3 separate regions of the Homo sapiens genome follow, and regions 1 and 3 are each linked to region 2. The links come from fine-mapping of genetic effects on gene expression. Tissue or cell type: monocytes after R848. Region 2 holds a variant in brackets; each other region holds the start of a gene. All regions are shown on one strand. Distances are from middle to middle.

The links. PIP is the estimated chance that this variant, and not a neighbour inherited with it, causes the effect.
Region 1: KILH starts here. The variant in region 2 is fine-mapped to the expression of KILH in monocytes after R848 (Quach 2016, PIP 0.95).
Region 3: GCLC-AS1 starts here. The variant in region 2 is fine-mapped to the expression of GCLC-AS1 in monocytes after R848 (Quach 2016, PIP 0.95). The same link has a PIP of 0.9 or more in monocytes, monocytes after LPS and monocytes after Pam3CSK4.

The regions. Positions count from the first base shown.
Region 1 is chr6:53,568,950-53,577,058 of GRCh38, reverse strand. It overlaps KILH (KRT19 interacting long noncoding RNA in hepatocellular carcinoma), which reads left to right and starts at 3,784. Exons shown (of 4, transcript NR_110840.1): 1 at 3,784-3,859; 2 at 7,454-7,636. RefSeq lists an enhancer at 3,525-4,025.
Region 2 is chr6:53,547,370-53,555,478 of GRCh38, reverse strand. No RefSeq gene overlaps it. Among named protein-coding and RNA genes, the nearest start is that of GCLC, 6.3 kb to the right of the region's middle. RefSeq lists a silencer at 7,108-7,337. The variant T/C (reference allele first, on the strand shown) is at 3,593.
Region 3 is chr6:53,426,443-53,434,551 of GRCh38, reverse strand. GCLC-AS1 (GCLC antisense RNA 1) reads right to left here and starts at 3,058. Exons shown (of 5, transcript NR_183318.1): 1 at 2,913-3,058.

The sequences.
Region 1 (8,109 bases), 22 kb before region 2:
GGCAATAATTTATCATTATTACAATTGGATGGTAGATAATTGAGAGTTCATTATAATATTCTACTTTTTTGTGTTTGAGATTTTCCATTTTTTATTTTTACTTTTTATTATTCTTTTTTTTAGACGGAGTCTGTTTCTCTGTTGCCCAGGCTGGAGGGCAGTGAGGCGACCTCAGCCCACTGCAACCTCTGCCTCTTGGGTTCATGCGATTCTCCTGCCTCAGCCTCCTGAGTAGCTGGGACTCTAGGCGTGCCACCACGCCTGGCTAATTTTCGTTTTTTTTGTTGTTGTTGTTGTTGTTGTTGTTGTTGTTTTGAGATGGAGTATCACTCTGTCGCCCAGGCTGGAGTGCAGTGGCACGATCTCGGCTCACTGCAAGCTCCACCTCCCGGGTTCACGCCATTCTCCTGCCTCAGCCTCCCGAGTAGCTGGGACTACAGGCACCCGCCACCACGCCTGGCTAATTTTTTTTTTTTTAGTAGAGACGGGGTTTCACCATGTTAGCCAGGATGGTCTCGATCTCCTGACCTCATGATCCGCCCGCCTTGGCCTCCCAAAGTGCTGGGATTACAGGCGGAGCCATCGCACCTGGCCTAATTTGCATATTTTTAGTAGAGACAGGGTTTCACTGTGTTGGCCAGGCTGGTCTCAAACTCCTGACCTCAAGTGATCTGCCTGCCTCAGCCTCCCAAAGTGCTGGGCATGATCCACCGCGATTGGCAGAAAAATATTTTTAAAGCATGCATACAATAGTATTTATATAATAAAGACACATACAAAGAAAAGCATAAATATCAAGTGCCCAAGAATTGCTGCCATTGGTGGGTGATGGGGATGGAAATCAAAGGCAGAAATAAAAGAAAATAAAAATGAATGAATGATGGAGAAGGAGGAGCCTAACACAGACCATTGGCCAAAGTATGAAATAAACTAAGGAGTATAATTGGACCAATCTTCAACAAACAGGAAAACTGGAAAATGAAAACAGGAAAAACAAAACAGGCCACGTGCAGTGGCTCATGACTGTAATTCCAACACTTTGGGAGGCTAAGGTGGGCAGATCACTCGAGTCTAGGAGTTGGAGACCAGCCTGGCTAAAATAACGAAACCCTGTCTCTACTAAAAACAGAAAAATGAGCCAGGCGTGGTGGTGCACACCATGCCTGTAATCCCAGCTACTCAGGAGACTGAGGCACAAGAATCACTTGAACCTGGGAGGCGGAGGTTGCAGTGAGCCAAGATCACGGCACTACACTCCAGCCTGGGTGACAGAATGAGACTCTAAAAAAAAAAGTCCTATGTCAGTCCAAAGGCTGGCATTTAAGGATTTAAGGTCTCCTAAATTTGGTCTTGGCCTACCTTTTTAAGCTTATTTTTTCACCCACCTTGAAAAACTAACATCCCATCAAAATTAAATATCTATTGTTGACCATGTGTCTTAGTCTATTTCAGGCTGTTATAATAAAATACCATAACCTGGGTAGCTTATAAACAACAGAAATTTATTTATGACATTTCTACAGGCTAGGAAGTCCAAGATCAAGGCACAGCAGATTCCATGTCCGGTGAAGGCCCACTTTCTGGTTCATAGAGGGTGCCTTCTTGCTGTGTTCTTGCATCATGGAAGGGTTTAGCTAGCTCTCTGGGGTCCCTGTTGTAAAGGCACTGATTCCAATTACAAGTGCTTTACCTTCATGACCTAATCACATGCTAAAGCCCTCACCTCCTAATACCATCAGTTTAAGGGTTAGGATTTCAACATATGAATTTAGGGGGGATGTAAGCATTCCATTCATTTCACCATGTATAGCCTATTCTTCATTGATCCCATCATACAGTTTCTGATGGTTCTACTGCCCTAAACTCTGCCCATGCTCCATATCTGCATAACAACTTCTTACCCATCCTTCCAAATCTACCCCGTACACCATCTCCTCAAGATGCTTTCCCTAGTGCCCTGCTCTCTTCTCTCTCAGTGGAGAGTAATCTATGTACAAAACAAAAAACATCACACTTATCAGATTTGCTTAAGTATTTATCCTTTTATAATTGGTATTAGAATTTTTCTGTATTTGCCTTCTGCTCTAAAGATCCAGTTCTTTACAGTGTAATATCCTAGGACAGGTATCAGTTATATTCATCTCTGTATCCCATAATGCTTAGAACTGCTTCAAACACTGTAATGCAGGTGTCTCCTAGATGATAAATGGGGGAAAGACAGAGAGAAGGAAGGGAGGGAAAGAGAAAGGAAAAGAAAGTCTGAATGAATAAATTGCATTGCATTGGTTCTTTCAAGGGAGAAAACTGACCAAATTCACTTGAAAACATAAAACAAAATACCCAAATTCACTTGAAAACATAAAAAGGATTTCATAAAAGATGTCATCAAGCCGGGTGCGGTGGCTCATGCCTGTAATCCCAGCACTTTGGGAGGCTGAGGCGGGCAGATTACCTGAGTTCAGGAGTTTGAGACCAGCCTGGCCAACATGGTGAAACCCCGTCTCTACTAAAAATACAAAACTTAGCTGGGTGTGGTGGCAGGTGGCTGTAGTCCCAGCTACTCAGGAGGCTGAGGCAGGAGAATTGCTTGAGGCCAGGAGAGGGAGATTGCAGTGGCCCAAGACCATGCCACTGCACTCCAGCCTGGGCGACAGAGCAAGACTCTGTCTCAAAAAAAAAAAAAAAAAAAAAAAAAAAGATGTCATCAATTTTATAACGTTTCTTTCTCAGCTGTTTGGAGTTTCCTTTTTAAAGGCACTTAAGTGCATGCATCAAATGGTACAATAGAAACAAAAATATAAGCTAAAAGCTGAAAAATAAATTCAGGGGCCTTTTGGTAGGTCACGACCCCCCCCTTTATCCCTGCTGCAACAACAGCAGTAATGTGGAATAGGTGTTTCAACCCATTGCACATGGAGGAGTTTGTGCTTCCCCACACCTTACCCTACGTACCTCAGCTGATAGGCTCAGCAAGAGGTAAAAACAGCCATGGGACAGAAAAAAATCCAGTCCTTTTATGGGAGATGGCATAGGTGTGTTTGGAGAGAGGCAGTCCTTGGTTCAAATCCTGAGCATGGTTTTCTTAGGTCTGTGACCTTGAGCAACTCATTCAACCTCTCTGATTTTCTCTGTTGAGTTTCCTAACATCAAAATGGAGTGACACCTATTGTGGTTGCCATTGTTATTACTGACTGCCCTGCCTCATCCTTCTTTTAAATGACGTGATGCCTTTTGGGTAGAAGGGAGGCTGTTGCAGTTTTCCTGTTGAAAGGGGAGTTGCAACTGCCCTGTGATTCCATGGAGACTTGTGTGTGTGTGGAAGGCTGGAAAGCAAAGGTTGCAGTAAGTTTGTGACAGAAGCTTCCCTGAGACACCTGGAGACCCTTTGGCTTTGAGCAGAGCTGCTCCTGGACGAAGGAGAGCAAGCCTTGGGGACTAGACTGAAGTCGCCGAGAACCCGACTACTAAACAGTGCTGAGGGGACAGCCTCTGGGGACTGCATGCAGCCAGACCCCGGGATGTCTCATGTGATCCTCCTTCAGGCCACCGGAAGTGCAGTGGGCGTGGCCAGGAACAGAGCGGGAGAGCTAGCAGCAGGTACCTCCAGGGGAGGAGCGGGTTATAAACCTGGTGTAAGGCACGCCGTCCAGGACTCCCAGAAATACCGAACGAGAATCGTGAGAAAGTGGAGGATGAGGGAGAGTTCAAGGGATCACAGCCTGGGGAGAAGAACCATGGAAAGCTGGACATTAAAATTTAATAGTATTTCATTTTCTACTCCAGGTGGATGAAATCAAGGCTTGCTGCTGACAAAATATAAATCATGCCATATGATGCCAATTCTAAAATGCCATTAATTGTAAGTTGTGCCATCGATTTAAATAAGACTTTTTTGAAAAAAAAATTTACTCCTAACATTAATAATAAACAATGATCATAAAAGAAATCCTGAATTTAAACTCCAGTCAGCATCTGGCCGGCCATGGTGGCTCACGCCTGTAATCCCAGCACTTCGGGAGGCTGAGGTTGGAGGATCGCTTGAGACCAGGAGTTTGAGACCAGCCTGGGCAACATAGTGAGACCCCATCCCTATTTAAAAATTTTTTTAATTTTACATATTTTATTGTATTGTATTTGATTCTTTTACAAATTTCAGTAGGTTTTTGGGGAATAGGTGGTGGTTGGTTACATTAATAAGTTCTTTAGTGGTGATTTCTGAGATTTTGATGCACCCGTCATCCAAGCAGTGTGCACTGTACCCATTGTGTAGTCTTTTATCCCTCCCACCCCATCCCACCCTTTCCTCCAAGTCCCCAAAGTCCATTATATCATTCTTATGCCTTTGTGTCCTCATTGCTTAGCTCCCACTTATAAGTGAGAACATACGGTGTTTGGTTTTCCATTCCTGAGTTACTTCACTTAGAATAATAGTCTCCAATTCCATCCAGGCTGCTGCGAATGCCATTATTTCGTTCCTTTTTATGGCTGAGTAGTATTCCATTTTCTTAATCCACTTGTTGATTGATGGGCATTTGGGTTGGTTCCATATTTTTTGCAATTGCAAATTGTGCTGCTATAAACATGCATGTGCAAGTATCTTTTTCATATAATGACTTCTTTTCCCACCTACTAGTGGGATTGCTGGATCAAATGGCAGATCTACTTTTAGTTCAAAAAAATTTTTTTAGTTTAAAAAATAAAATTAAAATAATAACAATAATTTAAAAAGGGCCAGTTGGTGTGATGCATGCCGATAATACCAACTATTCAGGAGGATCACTTGAGGCCAGGAGTTGGAAACCAACCCAGGAAACATAAGGAGACCCCATCTCTATTAAAAAAAAAAAAAAAATCCTGGATTCAGATAGCATAAACTATAAACTGTAACAAACAAGTATCAAAACAGAGAAAATGTGATATTTGTACCATTTAATAAACTTCCCTTTTATTCAGTAAATAAAAAATAAATGGTACATTTAATGCTTTGATAATTGTGAAGATCCTTACAAACATTACTTTTACATTTTGAAATGTACATATACAATTTTACGTGAAGTTTTTGAACAGAGGTAAAGATGGAATATAAAATATTTTGATCAATATTCTTTCCCACTAATTATGATAACTTTATTTGTAATGTACACTATTTGAGAAGTAACTGTCAGTAGAAAACAAGTGAAAATTCATATCCAAAAGGTAGAAAGTACATATTTTATTTTTCTAAAAAAAAAGATTCTGTTTCATTTTGTCACCATTAAACGTTGCCAAAATGTCCATTTCCTCTATGAAAAATTAGATATGTTGTAAACCGAGTACATAAATAACATTTTATTGGACATAAAACACTATGTGGTTACATAAGCTTTAGAAATGAGGATTAGTCCATATTTGGTACAATATTAACCTTAAAACAGACACACTGAATGGTGAGAAGATAATTTTTATTGTATATATAGAAACAGTTAATTGGGAAATACAGAAAAATCCTTCACAAAACAAAAGATATTTTATCTGTAAAAATCAGTAATGCTCATGGCTTATTCCAGGTGATATGAAGATAATCAAATAGCAGTTCCTTAAATTTTATAACTAAAGCATATATAGAAGTATTCACTTATATCTACAATTTACTTTTAAAAATGGTAAGAAAACTGTGCATAAGTAATAAAAATAAATGTATTTCCTACTATTAACTACAAATTTCAAAGGCTAATAGTTGTATTATTTTAGAATTATCAATATACAAGTATTTCAGTATTCAAACACAGTTTATAAACATGTCATTTTAAACACGATTTCCTCAGAGAGGCCTTTTCTGAAAAACACACCCCTGTTATCTAAACTATATCTTCTTCCCCTTATTCTTTGTCATAGCCCTCTTTCACCGTCATGGAACCTCACAATTTTAAATTGTGCTGTAGCAGGCCGGGTCTCACTAACAGCTGAACAGGCAGGCCTCCATGACAACTGTTTCAGCACTGACTGAGTGTTAAGTTAAATATTAAAAAGTTGATAGAGGCCGGGTGCGGGCTCACACCTGTAATCCCAAAACATTGCGAGGCCGAGGCAGGCGGATCACGAGCTCAGAAGATCGAGACCATCCTGGCTATAAGGGTGAAACCCCGTCTCTACTAAAAAATAAAAAAAAAAAAATTAGCCAGGCATGATGGCGGGCGCCTGTAGTCCCAGCAATTCGGGAGGCTGAGGCAGGAGAATGGCGTGAACCCAGGAGGCGGAGCTTGCATTGAGCCGAGATCCCGCCCGTTGCACTCCAGCCTGGGGGACAGAGCGAGACTCTGCCTCAAAAAATAAATAAATAAATAAATAAATAAATAAGTTGATAGAAGGCCGGACGCAGCGGCTCATGCTTGTAATCCCACAACTTTGGGAGGCTGAAGCGGGTGGATCACTTCAGGTCAGGAGTTCGAGACCAGCCTGGCCAACATGGTAAAACCCCATCTCTATCAAAAATACAAAAATTAGCCGGGCATGGTGGCAGGTGCCTGTAATCCCAGCTACTCTGGAGGCCCAGGCGGGAGAATCACTTGACCCTGAAGGCGGAGGTTGCAGTGGGCAGAGATTGCAGTGAGCCAAGATCATGCCACTGCACTCCAGCCTGGGCGACAGAGCAAGACTTCCTCTCAAAAACAAACAAACAAACAAACAAACAACAACAACAACAAACGTAATAGAGCCAGTGTCCTTATACAAAGGCTGGAAGGTAACAAAAGCCCACTGAGAGTTTTGCCTAGACTTTTCCTGGGCCTTGAAGCATGACAAGATAACAAAGGAATTCTTAACAAGATCCGTTTAGTATTAAACAAGTTTTACTGGGGTCTGAAGGAACTCCCTAAACCTCCATGATTTAGCAAGGAGACAAGATAAGGGTAATTACCTTTGGCACCTGGACCCATCTAGATTAAGTAAATTTACTGAGGCTCCACAGGAAGGTCTTTAGGCCACAGACTTTAGCTATAGGTTAGAAGAAATTAATAACTTATGTCTTCCGATGAATGCACACTTACACGTAGACATGTAGCTTAGAAGGTATATAAGCTCTGCAAAACTGTAATTTTGAGTTGGTCTGCTGATATTTTCCCGGCCTTCTCTCTATACCCGGTTACAGAAGTAAACTCTCTTCTTTCCCAGTTCATCTGCATCTCGTTATTGGGCCGTGAGAATAAGCAGCCTGATCCTTGGTTCATTCCGGGAACAGTGCATTCATTTATGTGGCTCTTCATTTAACACTAGTCTCCTCCCACCCAACTAAGCTATAAGCTCCATGAGAAATATCCTGCCTTTTGCTTGTTATTTTGTCCCAGTACCTAGCACGGTACCAGATACCTAGTAGGCACTTAATAAATATTCATTAAATCTATTCATATTTCCCCAGTCCCCTTACTTTACTCCTTTTTCTGCATCTTTCCTTTTATTGAACCCCTACACTTCCCAGCTCCTCCATTAACCCCTGCAGAGTATTCACTGACTGCTGAAACTAGAGCATCACTGAGAAGCAAGAGATAGACTGACCTAACTAGAGGGAGAGCTGCCATCCAGGATGATGCCACCATCACAGGAGGTGAGAAGGAACACAGCATCTTCTGCAAATGCTACAGTAAATAGGGACGGGGTGCAGGTAAGATCACTGACCCCAGGTCACTGACCCCAGTATTCTCAGAGCCAACAGCTAACTTTGCAGGAGAGCCCTGAGCCAATTACTAGATATGTAAACTTTAAAAAAAATGCTTAAGTCATCAAAATTTATTTTTTTCAATGGCAAAATGAGGATATTATTGTTCACCTCATATGGCTGTAGTGAGAATTAAATAACAGGATGCTTATGAATTTGAACCCAATGATGAACACATACTAATGTCTCAATTAATGCCATAATTATTTGATCCAGATCTGCAAACATTCAAAAACAGCTTTGCATAAATAAGCCCTGAATTAAATGAATCAGCCTCCTTGATCTTTTCCAGATGAATCATTTGCCCAACTTCTTCCCATACAATGAGATATCATATCTTAAATATGCAAATCAGTAGTTTTTTGCACTAATCAAGAGAGATTGCTCTGCTCCAACTGTCCCCTCATACACTCAGCTGA
Region 2 (8,109 bases):
TCTCAGGAGGTCCTGATGACTTGTGCCCAGGGTAGTTGGGGTACAGCTTGCTTTTATTTGTTTTAGGGAGACAGGAGATATCAATCATTATGTGTAAGATGTACCTTGGTTCAGTCCAGTAAGGCACACAGGGTTGGGGGGAGCAGAGGGGGATTCCTTTGAGTCTTTGACCAGCCTTTCACCGAATACACAATTTAGTCTGGCTCAGTGAATCTGCATTTTTATATAAACAATATGGCAGAGGAAGCAATCAGATATGCATTTGTCTCAGATGAGCCTCAGAAGGATGACTTTGATTTCTGTCTATCCCTTGTCCACAAGGAAATTCCTTGTAGGCAAATTGTGAGGGAGGTATGTAGCCTTTTATCTTTGTAGCTATTTTATTTAGGAATAAAATGAGATGCAGGCAGGTTTGCCTGACATCGTTTCCAGCTTGATTTTTCCCTTGGCTTAGTGCTTTGGAGGTCTCGAGATTTATTATCCTTTCACAACATATAGAGGAGTGTCTCAAACTTGATACTACTGACATTTAGAGTAGGACAATTCTTGTTGTGGGATGTCCTGTGTATTGTAAGATAAGTTTTTAGGTGAGTTGAATTTTTTCCTTAAGGTACTTACTACATTAAAGTTTAAGTACTAAAATAAGTGGCAGGAGGTATTGTATGAGAAAAAATACTTTCGGGAAGTACAATATATTTTTTTTTTTTTTTTTGCTTTTAGGAACTGGTCTTATCGAAGCAAAATTGCTCAATTATTCAGTACAATTGCCTTTCTACATAGATGTAATTATGGCTAACACTTTTTCACATCTCATCATCCATGAATGATAGGTTATAGTGCGCCAAAGTTCAATTATTTGGTGTTATCTAATCTAGAATGAACTTTACATATATTTATGTGAACTAAGGTGAATGAAATGGAAGAAAAAAGGCAGAGACTAAGATCAGATATCTTTAAAAAGGTAAATACATGCCTTAGCAATCTTACTCACATTTTGACACTTGGCCTATTTTAGCAATATTAATCACCCATGCACAGCCATTGTCAAATCATTTATACTATATGCGACAAGCATGTTTTTCTGGCTTTGGGTTTTGTTTTTAAATACAAAGCCCCATAATTTGGAACAATAGCTGGATAATTTGGAGTGAAAAAACTGGATAAGATCTACCATCTCCAAATTTAGAATGACAGAAATTGGTTTCCAGTAAGATATGTCAACAAAAAGAGTCAAACTCTATAAAATAGTTGAAGACATTTATTTTGAGCCAAATATGAGTGGTCATGGGCTGTGACACAACCCCAGGTGATCCTGAGAACATGTGCCCAAGGTGGTCGGGCTACATATAGTTTGGTATCATACATTTTAGGTGGATGTAAGACATCAGTACATGAAAGATGGTGGTTCAGTCCAGAAACATGCCCTGAAAATGTGAGACAACTTGGGAAACATGAGACAACTCGGGGTGAGGGGGCTGTATTAGTCCATTTTCACGCTGCTGATAAACATATACCTGAGACTGGGAAGAAAAAGAGATTTAATTGAACTTACAGTTTCACATGGCTAGGGAGGCCTCAGAATCATGGTGGGAGGTGAAAGGCACTTCTTACATGGTGGCAGCCAAAGAAAACGAGGAGGAAGCAAAAGCAGAAACCCCTGATAAACCCATCACATCTCATGAGACTTATTCACCATCACGAGAATAGCATGGGAAAGACCAGCCAGCATGATTCAATTACTTCCCCCTGGGTCCCTCCCAAAACAGGTGTGAATTTTGGAAGATACAATTCAAGTTGAGATTTGGGTGGGGACACAGCCAAAACATGTCATTCCACCCCTAGCCCCTCCAAATCTCATGTCCTCACATTTCAAAACTAATCATGCCTTCCCAACAGTCCCCCAAAGTCTTAACTCATTTCAGAATTAACCCAAAAGTCCACAGTCCAAAGTCTCATCTGAGACGAGGCAAGTCCCTTCTGCTTATGAGCCTGTAAAACCGAAAGCAAGCTAGTTACTTCCTAGATAAAATGGGGGTACAGGTATTGGGTAAATACAGCCATTCCAAATGGGAGAAATTAGCCAAAACAAAGGGGTTACAGGGCCCATGCAAGTCCGAAATCCAGTGGAGCAGTCAAATTTTAAAGTTCCAAAATGATATCCTTTGACTCCAGGTCTCACATTCAGGTCATGCTGATGGAAGAGGTGGGTTCCCATGGTCTTGGGCAGCTCTGCCCCGGTGGCTTTGCAGGGTACAGCCTCCCTCCCAGCTGTTTTCACAGGCTGGCATTGAGTGTCTGCGGCTTTTCCAGGTGCATGGTGCAAGCTGTCAGTGGATCTACCATCCTGGGATCTGGAGGACGGTGGCCCTCTTCTCACAGCTCCACTAGGCAGTGCTCCATTAGGGACTCTGTGTGGGGGCTCTAAACTCCACATTTCCCTTCTGCTCTGCCCTAGCAGAGGTATTCCATGAAGCCCCTGCCTGTGCAGCAAACTTTTGCCTGGGCATCCAGGCGTTTTCATACATCTGAAATCTAGGTGGAGGTTACCAAACCTCAATTCTTGATTTCTGTGCACCTATAGGCTCAACACCACATGGAAGCTGCCAAGGCTTGGGGCTTCCACCCTCTGAAGCCACAGCCTGAGCTGTATGTTGGCCCCTTTCAATCATGGCTGGAGTGACTGGGACACAGGGCACCAAGTCCCTGGGCTGCACACAGCACGGAGACCCTGGGCCTGGCCCACAAAACCACTTTTTTCTCCTGGGCCTCCAGGCCTATGGTGGAAGGGGCTGCCATGAAGGTCTCTGACATGGCCTGGAGACATTTTCCCCATGGTCTCGGGGATTAACATTAGGCTCCTTGCTACTTATGCAAATTTCTGACACCAGCTTGAATTTCTCCCCAGAAGATGGTTTTTTCTTTTCTATCACATAGTCAACCTGCAAATTTTCCAAACTTTTATGATCTGCTTCCCTTATAAAACTTTAACAGTACCCAAGTCACTTATTGAATGCTTTGCTGCTTAGAAATTTCTTCCACCAGGTATCCTAAATCATCTTTCTCAAGTTCAAAGTTCCACAAATCTCTAGGGCAGGGGCACGATGCCACCAGTCTCTTTGCTAAAACGTAACAAGAGTCACTTTTACTCCAGTTCCCAACAAGTTTCTCATCTCCATCTGAGACCACCTCAGCATGGACATTATTGTCAGCTGTCATTATTGTCAACATGTCAGCATGTTGGGCAAAGCCATTCAACAAGTCTCTAGGAAGCTCCAAACTTTCCCACATTTTCCTGTCTTCTTCTGAGCCCTCCAAACTGTTCCAACCTCTGCCTGTTACCCAGTTCCAATGTTGATTCTACCTTTTCAGGTATCTTTTCAGCAACACACCACTCTACTGGTACCAATTTACTGTATTAGTCCATCTTCACACTGCTGATAAAAACATAACTGAGACTGGAAAAAAAAAAGAGGTTTAACTGGACTTACAGTTCCACATGGCTGGGAGGGCCTTAGAATCACGGTGGGAGGTGAAAGGCACTTCTTACAGCGTGGTAGCAAGAGAAAATGAGGAAGAAGCAAAAGGGGAAACC[T/C]CTGATAAACCCATCAGATCTTGTGAGACTTATTCACTATCGTGAGAATAGCACAGGAAAGACCAGCCCCCATGATTCAACTACCTCCTCGTGGGTCCCTCTCAAAACAGGTGGGAATTCTGGGAGATACAATTCAAGTTGAGATTTGGGTGGGGACGCAGCCAAACCGTATCAGAGGGTCAGTTCCAGGTCCCCGCTAATATTTGAATAGGTGGATTCAAAGGTTTTCTGAATGGCAATTGGTTGAGTTTACCTAAGGACCTAGAATCGATAGAAGGGAGTGTCTGGGTTAACTAAGGAGTTGTGGAGACCAAGGTTCTTATTATACAGATGAAGCCTCCAGGTAGCAGGCTTCAAAGAGAATAGACTGTAAATGTTTGTTGGGAGACTTAAAAAGGTGCCAGACTCCGTTAATTCTCTTCTGGATCAGGAAAAAGACCTGGAAAGGGAAGGGGATTCTCTACAGGATGTAGATTTTCCCCACAAGAAACAGCTTTGCAGGGCCATTTCAAAATATGTCAAAGAACTGTATTTTAAGATAAAATACTTGATTTCTTCAGGGCCTATTATCCATCATGTTGGTATTTTATTGTTCCAAAGAACCTGTTTAGTCAGTCTTCAGGTCTGTTTCAATGTTAATGCTGGTCAGCTGTGCCTGAAATCCAAAGGGAGGATGTTATAATTAGGCATGTCTGATCACCTATTCCATCATGGCCTGAAGTAGTGTTTCATATTTCAGGTTTACTTTTTTTTAATTTATTTTTTATTTTTTTTGAGACGGAGTCTCACTCTGTCACCCAGTCTGGAATGCAGTGGCGTGATTTTGGTTCATTGCAACCTCCGCCTCCCTGTTCAAGTGATTCTCCCACCTCAGCCTCCCAAGTAGCTGGGATTACTGGTGCATGCCACCACACCTGGCTAATTTTTGTATTTTAAGTAGAGACGGGGTTTCGCTGTGTTGGCCAGGCTGGTCTTGAACTCCTGACCCCAGGTGATCTGCCTGCCTTGGCCTCCCAAAGTGGTGGGATTACAGGTGTGAGTCACTGCGCCTGGCCTCAGGTTTACTTTAGAATGTTCTTGGCCTAGAGGAGTGGTCCATTCAGGTAGTTGGAGGGCTTAGAATTTTATTTTTGGTTTACGGATATTAGGGTATTGCTCATTATTTTCCATCTTTCTAGATCACCTCCCATATCAGCTGCTCAAACCTCATCTTCTACATTCCTCTTTCTTTCTTCAACCTTCACTTAGAGCTCAGGTCCTGAGATCAGACTTGAGTGAGATTTCCTTTAAACTAATGGGAGGAGGTAAGTAACTGTAACATACAAAGATGAATAATAAGTACATGAAGAGGTGGGCACCATGGCTCATGCCTGTAATCCCAGCACTTTGGGAGGCCAAGGCAGGCGGATCACCTGAGGTCAGGAGTTTGAGATCAACCTGGCCAATATGGCAAAACCCCATCTCTACCAAAAATACAAAAACTAGGGCCAGGCACAGTGGCTCACACATGTAATCCCAGCACTTTGGGAGGCCAAGGCTGGCAGATTACCTGACGTCAGGAGTTCAAGACCACCCTGGCTAACGGTGAAACCCCGTCTCTACTGAAAATACAAAAATTAGCCCGGCGTGGTGGCAGGCGCCTGTAGTCCCAGCTACTCGGGAGGCTGAGGCAGGAGAATTGCTTGAACCCAGGAGGTGGAGGTTGCAGTGAGCCAAGATCATGCCACTGCACTCCAGCCTGGGTGACAGAGCAAGACTCCCGTCTCAAAAAAAAAAAGAAAAAAGTACATGAAGAGCCATTATACTATGTTCTCTCAACTTTTGTGCTTTATTGGAAATGTCCATAATAAAAAGTTATCTTTAATTATTCTCCAGTGAGAAGAGTGAGTCTACAGGACTCAGATATCACTCGCCCTGTCCCAACACATTATCATGGCGTCTTTATCTTCTATAAGAAGACAATGAGATTTTTCTAGGAAAAAAAGCTCACCACTTCCCATGTGTTCTGGATCCCAACAAGTCAGGTCTCCTGAGACATTTTGCTTCTGAAAATATCCTTTCTTGTTCCCACATCTTCAATCTTGCCCCCTTTTGATGCCTACCCATCTTCTTTAGCACACTCAAACTTCTCCATGTTAAAAAAGTTCTTCACTTGAACTTCACAGACCTTTTGTAACTCTACATGAAAACAAGCACATTTATATTTTTCAAAAATCCATGTAAACTAAAAATTGGCTTGGAAAAGGTCAAAAGAGTTTCCTTGCTTTTTTGACAATGACAATAGCACACCTCAGCAGCATGTATTACAAATAGTACACGATACAAAAAGATTTGAACTCTTTCAACTAATTTTAGTAATAACATCAGAAAATGTTTAGGCTGGAAGGGAAACTTTATCTCCTCCAGACTCTCATTTGTACAGATGAGAGGAAAGGACTCTCCAATGATTATCACAACTTTGCTTAGATTGACCCAGCAGGTAGCCCTCTGAGATGGGGCCAAAGCCCCAGTCTTTTGGCTACTGCTCTTCCATCATAAAGCCCCCAGGGATCTTCTTGAATAAGATCAAGTCAAATTCCAAGTACAATTCAATTGTAGGGAGAAAATTCCTTCTGTATCTTTTGTTGTTTAACATGTACACTGAAGTTAAGAAATAACTAACTATTTGTTTTCACCAATTAAGAAATTTAACATTGGGAGGCCGAGGCGGGCGGATCACGAGGTCAGGAGATCGAGACCATCCCGGCTAAAACGGTAAAACCCCGTCTCTACTAAAAATACAAAAAATTAGCCGGGCATAGTGGCGGGCGCCTGTAGTCCCAGCTACTTGGGAGGCTGAGGCAGGAGAATGGCGTGAACCCGGGAGGCGGAGCTTGCAGTGAGCCGAGATCCCGCCACTGCACTCCAGCCTGGGCGACAGAGCGAGACTCCATCTCAAAAAAAAAAAAAAAAGAAAGAAATTTAACAGACAAAAAGCTTAAGGACTTCACAGGCAGATCCGCGGGTTTTGGGGAAAGGGTGTGTCAAGGGAGAAGAAAGGATGTAATGAAGGTTGGCATCAAGTCCCAGGAAGAATCACACTGAAGGCAGCCACCAGCTTCACCCAGGCTAAGTGGTGTAGTAGACAGCTTTGAAATATCACTGGAGTTCAAACCCCAGCTTAGCCACTACCTGTTACTTAGTATTACTGGATCTCAGTTGCCTCACTTATAAAATGTGGCAAAGATTAGTACTGTTTTACGGATACCAGCTCAAAGTGCCTGGCATAGAATGTGATATACTGGGACCCAAGCGACAGACCACCAAGGTCAAGGGATACTCAAGCCAAAGAGAGCGGTAAAGGCAGGGGCAGATAACCTAGAAGTGCCTTCCTCAGAGTCCCCTGGGCACTCTCTCTGTTTTCCTTATTTGATCTCGCGAAGCCGCTGACTCAAGGGAAACTGGGAATGGCGTGACCACAGAGAAAATGATGTATTTTTTGGTCCTTGGAGGCCCGAAACCCATCGTGTCTGAAACGACTGCGGCAATCCTAGCAGCAGCAGCAGCCCAGAGGTCAGGAGTGATGGACTGAGACTTTGCCCTAAGAAGCCTCCCCCAGATTGACCTCCGGCTCGGAGCCCGCACAAAGCGCTGAGTCACGGGGAGGCGGTGCCGCGCGCGGGGGAGGCGGGCCCGCGCAGTCACGTGGCGGGGGCTGTATCACAACAACTGCGCGGCGTGCGCCGCCCGCGGCCCACACCGCTTCCTCCCGCGACAGGCCGGCTCTCCGAGCATGCTCAGCTTGGCCTCACGACTGCACGGCGTCCCCCCATGCGGATCTCCACGGTCCAGGTTTTCCGGACGGCTCTGGGGGCGGGGCCTGTGTTGGTCCGCGGGGCTGCGAGGCGAGGTTGCGGTGCCAGGGCGCCGCTGGGCAGAGATGGGTTCCTGGAGAGCGGGTCTCGCGTTTTTCCGCGGAAGACACTACTGGGAATCGGCCTTTGGTCATGGTCTAGGGAAGAGCTGATTCTGCAAGATATGAGCTCCTTCTTTCCCCTTCAGCTATCGTTACAGCCCTGATGGAGCTGTCTGCTGAAAACTCACTTCCAGATGTCGAAACCTGGCCCTGGGTGCAGTCTACAGAATGAAATCGAGCAGTAGTGGACCTATGCAGGCAAAGCATTGTCAGAGGGGAGTAACTCTTGTTAAATATGACTTCAGTTGATCCGTGATGGGATTTTTGTTTTTTCTTTGTAACAGAAAAGGCTAAAGACACTGAGAGATCAAGGTTTAAATTGGGCATAACTGCCCTGTGGTGCAGCAGCGCCGGCGCCCTTTTTGGGATTGTCCAAAGCTCTGGGACCCCCGCTGGGGGAGCTGGTTCAGAATTCGGGGGGGTAGGATAGGGTGAGGGAGGTCCCTTATGTGAGTGTGAGCCGGGATCTAGGACAGAGTAACTCCAATTACAGTGTTAAACTCTTACTAGGTTCAGTGTCGCGTAGGGCTTTGGCTAGACTAGAATTTAGTCTATTATTGAA
Region 3 (8,109 bases), 120 kb after region 2:
CAGACACCTAATAGTCCCAGCTACTGGGGAGGCTGAGGCAGGAGAATGGCGTGAACCCAGGAGGCGGAGCTTGCAGTGAGCTGAGATCACGCCAGTGCACTCCAGCCTGGGAGACAGAGCGAGACTCCATCTCAAAAAAAAAGAATTTATCTTTGTGGTAGTGCCATAGCCTTCGGGTAGAGAGAGCTGATGAAATTTAACTTCTGATTATCTCAGGAAGCTGAGCTAAGTCAGTAATGAATGTGTACTTTGTAATTTTGTCTATTTGAACATTCACAACCTGCTGTTAGCCTTTTAAAAATCTCAGAAGTTTTAGGTTGAATAATATAAAACAAAAGCATCATAAAATTCACTAGAGAGAAAAAAATTGATTTTTTAACTAAGACTTTAAAAAGTAAATAGTGTATGTTCAAAGGAAGATTAGCGAATTGCTACAGTCACAGCTCAGTAACATTGGACTTGAACATCTATTGATAGTAAGTACTACGTTTAGCATTCATATGAAGATTATGTCTATAGACCTCAACAGTTTCATGATGCTGCCAAATAAAAATATTTTAATTTGCCTTTCAATTTTCCACACTTAATAGAGTCACATGCTATAACATTCCTTATAGATCAAGGATGCAAACATTTTCAGGGTTTAAGCTACAGGATTAGGAGGATTAAGCTAAGGATTAGGAAGAAAGATCATTACAATTCTCTGTCCTGTATGGGTTAACAATAAGCCTCAGCCTTTTTCTAACAATATTTGCTTTAGATAGAGATAATAGGTAGTCAAATAAATAAGTACTTCGAGGGCAGTACTTTGTGCCCAGTACGCTATCAGGAACCATGGACATTCGGAAAGAAGTCAAAGATGTCATCCCTGCATTTAGGAAATGCACACACTTGTTGGAGAGTAAGAATGTATATTTCTGTATCTACACAGCATTAAAAAGATCCACAGTGGGAGAGAGGAATATGGAAGCAAAATATTGGACAGAATGTGTTATTGACATAGATTCAACTATCTGTACCATAGACTTTAGAAAGGGGAAGCTAACTTTAGGCAGAAGTTAGTCACATAAGGCTTCATGGAGGAGGGGGGAGCCTTCAGACGAAAGTGGAATTTCTGGAGTTATATTAGAAAAGGGAAAGTGTTCCAGGGAGAGAATGGCACAAGCAAAGACACTAAAATAGTCCCTCCTTTATTAATCCATTCAGCAACCATTTAATGAGCACTTAGCTCATATGAAGACCAGTAACCAATATCTTCAAAGATGAAATGAAAGATGAAATCATGCTTCCTATCTTTATGGGAAAGGCTTAGGAGGAACTTCAATCTTATAATCCAGTACTATTCTGTAATCAGCTTTTGATGAGTATTTATTAAAAGAATGAGGCTTATCCTACTTTCCCAATGCATCTTCTTTCTTTCACATAATACCATCTATCCAGCTGACTCACATTCTTCTCTCTTTCATAAGATTGTTTCCCACTTGCTGCTCTCACTGCCCACAGTCATCAGCAACGTCAGCAGTTCACAGGGTGGGTGGGTGGGGGTTTCCAGAAACCCAGCTGGGATGTGTGGGTTAATAAAATCTGGAAGCAAGAGCTACCCGAGGACAGGCTAAGGAGTGATCATAGTTAGGAGCAGCCCAATAGCACTGTCATCTGGCAGCTGAGACAACAAATCATGGGAGAAAACAGGGATCATGACCTGCCGGCTGCTGTCAGCTGAAGCAAAGTGTAGGCAAATAGATCATATGCCATCCCCTGCCCTGAATCCTGAAGAGTTTCAGGTTCACATTCATTCTAAATGCAAGGCCAGCTCCAGAGAATATTGCAAAATGGGTTCTTAGTCATCAATGCCCTATTAACCTCTTGTTTGCTTCCCCTTTAGAGGCTCTTTTACTGTCCAATTGTGTATTTCATTTTTTCTTTTTCTTTTCTTTTTCCTTTTTTTTTTTTAAATGGGGCTTTGCTCTGTTGACTAGGGTGGAGCACAGTGGTGCGATCATGGTTCACAGTATCCTCGACCTCCCAGGCTCAAGCAGTCCTCCCACCTCAGCCTCCTGAGTAGCTGTGACCACAGACACAAGCCACCATGCCTGGCTAATTTATTAATGTTTTTTTGGTAGACGTGGGGTCTCACTATGTTACCCAAGCTGGTCTTGAACTCCTGGGCTCAAGAGATCCTCTCACCTCGGCTCCCCAAAGTGCTGGGAGCATAGGCATGAGCCACAGCGCCTGGCCTCAATTGTCTGTTTCTTTAGACCAGCAATGAGTTTTCCAAAGCTTTGTTTCCAAGGTAGATAGGCCTTTTCTTTGCCCACACAGAGGCAGCCGATCATTTCTAGAGAAAATAATGCAATTAGAACGGTTGGTTTATGCCATGATCTGAATGTTCGTGTCCCCCAACTTAAATTTGAATGCTGAGATCCTGACCCCCCGGGTGATAGAATTAAGAGATGGGGACTTTAGGGGGTGATTAGGTCGTAAGTGTGGAGCCCTCAAGAATGAGATTCATGCCCTTATGAAAGAGGCTCCCGCGAGTTCCCTTAACCCTCCTGCCAGGTGAAGACACAGGAAGCAGACAGCTGTCTATGAACAAGGAAGCAGGTTCTCACCAGACACCAAATCTGCTGACAGCTTGATCTTGCACTTCCAGCCTTCTGAACTGTGAGCAACAAATATTGATTGTTTACGCCATCAGTCTATGGTGTTTTGTTATAGCAGAAATGGACTTTGCTGCCTTGTATCCATCAACACCCTCTACTACAACAGGAAAATAGAAGTCATCTTTCTTTCCACCATGAAATTTAAACATATCTGCATACATGTTCATTGTCTTAGTCCATTTTGTGCTAGTATAATAGCACAGACCTATAAAGAACAGAACTTATAAAGAACAGAAATCTATTTCTTACCATTCTGAAGGCTGAGAAGTCCAAGATCAAGGCACCAGCATCTGGTGAGGGCTGCTCTTGGCTTCCACAATGGCATTTTGAACACTGTGTCATCCAAAGAAGAGAAACACTGTGTCCTCACATGGCAGAAGACAGAAGGGACAGAGGACCAAACTCCTTCATAAAGGGCTTTTATAACAACATTAATCCATTCATGAAGGTGGAGCCCTTATGACCTAAATACCCCAAAGGCCGCAACTCCCAACAGTGTTGCACTGGGATTAAGTGTCAGCATTCAAATATATTCTAAAACCCTCATTTATAAAGCCTTCTCTTTTACTTAACAAAGATAAAGGTGAAATCTTCCAGTCAATGGTGAGAAGACAGTTATTTTATAAATGATTTTGGGAAACCAGGTAGCCATCTAAAAATAAAACTAAAATTGTCTTAACCCCTCCCACTTGCACCAGGAAAATATACAATTGAATCAAAGATTTCAGAGTAAATAATGAAATTATAAATCAGTTCTAAGAAATCTCGAGAGAATTCTTCGAGAGTTGGAAAAACCTCTCTATGACACAAAACTCAAGAACCATAAACAAAAAGATTTATAAATTTGACAATACGAAAATCAACCATTTCTACAAGGCCGAAGCTACCATAAACAAATTTCAAAGACAAACAGCAAACTGGGAAAATATATATGCAAGATATATTGGAAGCAAAGGGCTACTTTTCCTTATATAAAGAAAGCATGTATAACGTGTTAAAAAAAATCAATAACTCAATTTTTTTAAAGGTACAACAATCCTCCCAATGACTCTTAACCAATAAAACATGTTTAATCTCACTCATAGCTAAAGAATGCAAATTAAAATAATACTGAGCTACCAATTTTCACTTGTGAAATTAGGAAAGGTCAAAAATTTGATAATCTTCTGTGCTGATGAGGTTGTGGGGAAAGAGGCATTTTCATATTGCTGATGGGAATGTAATAGGTACAACTTCTATGAAGAGGAATTTAGCATTATTTACCAAAATCACAACTACTCCTACCCTCTGATCCAGAAAATTCTACATCTAAAAATTTATCTTACAGATTACATGTACACACACTTCCAAAATGTATAAGGTTATTCGTTGCAGCTCAGAAATGAAAAATATTAGCAATAAACATGATCTCTCTCAATAAGAGATAAATCAACAATGGCACACCCCACAAAGAAGTAAGACCTCTGCTCCTTCTCCACACAGCCTGTAAATATCAGCTGTCCTCCACACTCAGTCCTAGACCTTCTTCCATTCCTACTCTTGGTGGTCTCATCCATTGCCAGGGCTTTAAATATCTTCACAGAAATTATCTCATTCCAGAAACCTTATAATAATCTTTTTTGTCTTCCTATCCCTCGTTCTCTTCACTAAATGCTATTAAACTACCTCAAAATTACATTTTAATAGTAAAACAGCTTTATTCATGTATAACTGAAATAAACTGTACATAATTGTAGTACATTATTTGATAAGCTTTGACACAAGTATACATTCAAAACTACCACCATAATCAAGATAATAAACATCTCCATCATCCCCGAAAGTTTCCTAATGCTCCTTTGTAATCCCTCTGGCCCACCTCTCCCTACTCCCCAAACTAGCCACTGATATGCTTTCCATCATGACAGCTTAGTGTGTATTTTCTAGAATTTTATATAAATAGAATCTTACAGTATAAACTCTTCTTTTCATTCTTCTTTCACTTACCATAATTATTTTCAGATTCATCTATGTTTTGTATATTATTAGTTCATTCCTTTTGTGACTGAGTAGTATTCCATTGCATGGAAATATCATAATTTGTTTAAATTCACCTATTGATAAACATTTGAATTCCTTTCATGTTTTCTCTATTATAAGTCAAACTGGTATGGATGCAAACATATATTTAATACATCCAGTTTCCTACATTTAAAAAAGTTCTATGTTTCTTCCTCCTGTTTTTAACACCTTTGCTAACCAACCACCATCTGTGAGTAGGTGTTAAGGGTTTCTTGACTGATCTTCTACTTTCTATTCTTCATTCTACCCTACAACCATAGCTATCATTTTTTTAAAAAACATTAATGTTTGTCCTTTTTTGTTTAAAGTTCTTTAGTAACCACCACTTCCTCTACCTTGCCCCAGCCCAGTACTCTAAGGATGTAATCCAAACTTCATAGTCTAAAATGCCTTTTATATTATCTGGCCTCCCTCACTTTACCTAGCACTGCTGTCTTTCAAGCTTGTGCTTCCTGACCCACATAATCCTTTTCTCATTGCCTCAAAAGCTCCACTATTTTTTTTCTACTCCAGGTATCCGTCACATGCTGTTCCTTCTTGGAATTCTCTTCCCCAGTTCATCTACTATCTTGCAACTTCTCCCATTCCTTAAGTTTCCAAGAAATCAGTAATGGATTACAAACATCTATCCAAATTTTCTGCCACTGTTGAAGAGGTAAGAGATGAGTTGACTCATTCAAGAAATGGAGCAAGGAGGCTGATCTAAGGAAGAAAAAAAATGAGCAAAGCCAAAAACTATGAACCCATGGTGATAATATCCACCGTATTGAGAGGCCAGTCCAGGAGGCTCATCAGTCTTTTCATAGCTAAAGACCACAGAAGTAATCAAAAGTAAAATATGTATGACAAAAAACCATTGAGTTGATAAAAGACAGCCTTGAGCAAACATTAAAATATGAAATGGAAAAAAGATGAAAATTACTAGACAGATGACTACTAATATGGAATCTAGACAAAGGCGATCTAATATAAAAATAATGGGTATTCTTAAATTTTAAAAAGCAAATAGTGAAAGAAAATGTACTTAAAGATTTAATAACAAAAAGAGAACACAAAGCACTAGAAAAAATTTCCCAGGAAAATCTGATAAAGAATATTTAATGCTTACACATATCTTGAAATAAACTAAAAGCTTTAAGGACATCCATGTAGAAAAAGAAAAGCTCCTCTAAGTGTAAGGGCTGTGAGGGAGGTGCAGATGAGCCTGACCTCCAAAACCTCAGCAGCAGCATTCAATGCCAGAAGACAATGGAGCTCTGCTTACAAAGTTCTGAGGAAAGGAAAGGGTAACTTTGTGTCCATCTAATTGTGCTTGAAACATAAAGGCAGGAAACAAACTTTAAAATAAGCAGCAATTCATGAAATTTAGTGCTCATGAATTATTTTTGAAAAAGCCATCCAACAACAAAACCCAGCAAGCCAATTGTTAAGTGAAAAATTAAAAACCCGGAAGTGGAAGGTTGGTCATTAAACACATTCAATGGCTTAAAGAAAAAGCAAAGCTGAGAATTATGGCTACAGGACAGAGTAAATTTATGAATCTTGATAATGAAAAAATAATAATACACTTAACAGAAATATGGTGTTGTAGGGGTAGGTTAGAAAGATGGTGCCATGTTGCTTACCTTCAGTGCAGGCAGATCCATAGATACTGCTTGAATTGAAGCATTTTGGTGATTGGGTTTTTTTTTTTTAAGTAAAAAAATCTTTTGAAATTTTAGAGTTATCTTCTAGGAAAATAAAATTGCTTGATGTGAAGAAACTTATTAATCTGAGATTGAGCAATTCTACCAATTTCACTAGCTTTTCTCCAGTTTAGTTCAAGTAAAGACAAATTTAATGCTTTTTGTTTTTTAAAAAAAGCATTTACAGTAGGTCCCATTTTTGTAGAATTATGTCTATGTGTGAATATGGGTACATACATAGAGAGATCACTAGGAACTAGGATGATGTTGCCAAATGTTATGACAATTATTTCTGGGTAGTTGATAGTGGGGGTTTTGCTTGTTGGTTTTGTTTTTTAACTTTCTTCTATATACTCTTCCGTAGCCCTTTTTGTGATAAGCATGTATCAGTTTTATAAAACCAATACGTTTTGAATAGGTCCCTGACATCTGAGCTATTGCAGGGTATGGCTGAGGAGAGGGAATTTTACCAGAAGGCCCATTAACCATGGGTCTCATACTCATAAAGACCATAAACTTAGATTTTTTATGTCCTCTCCAAATGAGTTCATACATGCTGTAATTGAAATATACTAATAGGATTAAACACTTAAATTATAGGGAGTTTTCTTCTTTTTAAAATTATAGCTGGAACTTCAAGATGTCCATTCTTCTTGAGAAGCCCTGCATATATTATTCAAAATTAAATAAATAATGATTTAATACATTGGGAAGGATATGGCTCAGAGGAAGGATCCTAGAGGCTTCCTTCCCCTTCCTAGATCATGCCCAGTTTAGAACTTTCTACCAGGTGAACACGTAGCCCTGACACTTCCACCTACAGCTGCAAGCATTGAACAAAAGGCAACTAATTTTTATGCGCCATTTCTGGAACTAGCCCTAGTCATCCAACACACAGATCTCTTTGAATTATAATGCTCAGAGATTTTTACTTGCTTATATTTGGCTCACTTTGGTCTGCCTTCTCTCTGATCTGATGACTCAGTTCCTAATCTCACTACTGAGTTTAGCAAATACTGCTTTTCTCACAACTAGATTCATAATTAGATTATCCATTTGTCTTTGGCTACCTGAACTCACATCATAACTGTGGGTTTCAATTCCCACCTCTCCCCTGCCTCACTGCTTCTTTTTTTTTTTTAATTGTACTTTAAGTTTTAGGGTACATGTGCACAATGTGCAGGTTAGTTATAGGTGGGAATTGAACAATGAGATCACTGCTTCTTAACATCTGGCTTGCTGCTAACCATATCTCATTCACCTGTAGTCATATGATACCGGAAAAGAAACCAAGAAAACAGTACGACTCGCTTGCTCATTAAAACTTCTGTGGCAATGAAGGGTGAAAAGGATTCATAAGAGTGATGAGAAATTCTGGCGGGACCAATATCCAGAATGATGAAATTGAGCTCCTCATGGAAAGATAGTCCTGGAACTCACAGGCTCTCATGCCCCTGAGATGTGGTAGAAATAGCCTTTAACTTGGAGTTAGAAGACCTTGGTTCTAATCCTAGCTCTGTGCTGGCAGAACTGCCCTACAAGTGAGATGAAAGGATGCTAAACAGTAACTCGAATCCTCACAAAGAAATAAAAAGCAGCAATAAGGGTAACTACACAGGTGACTTATAAAAGCATAAATGTGTGTTTGCTTGTAATTTTTCTGATTTAAGACAACTGCATAAAGTAATACTTATAAAACT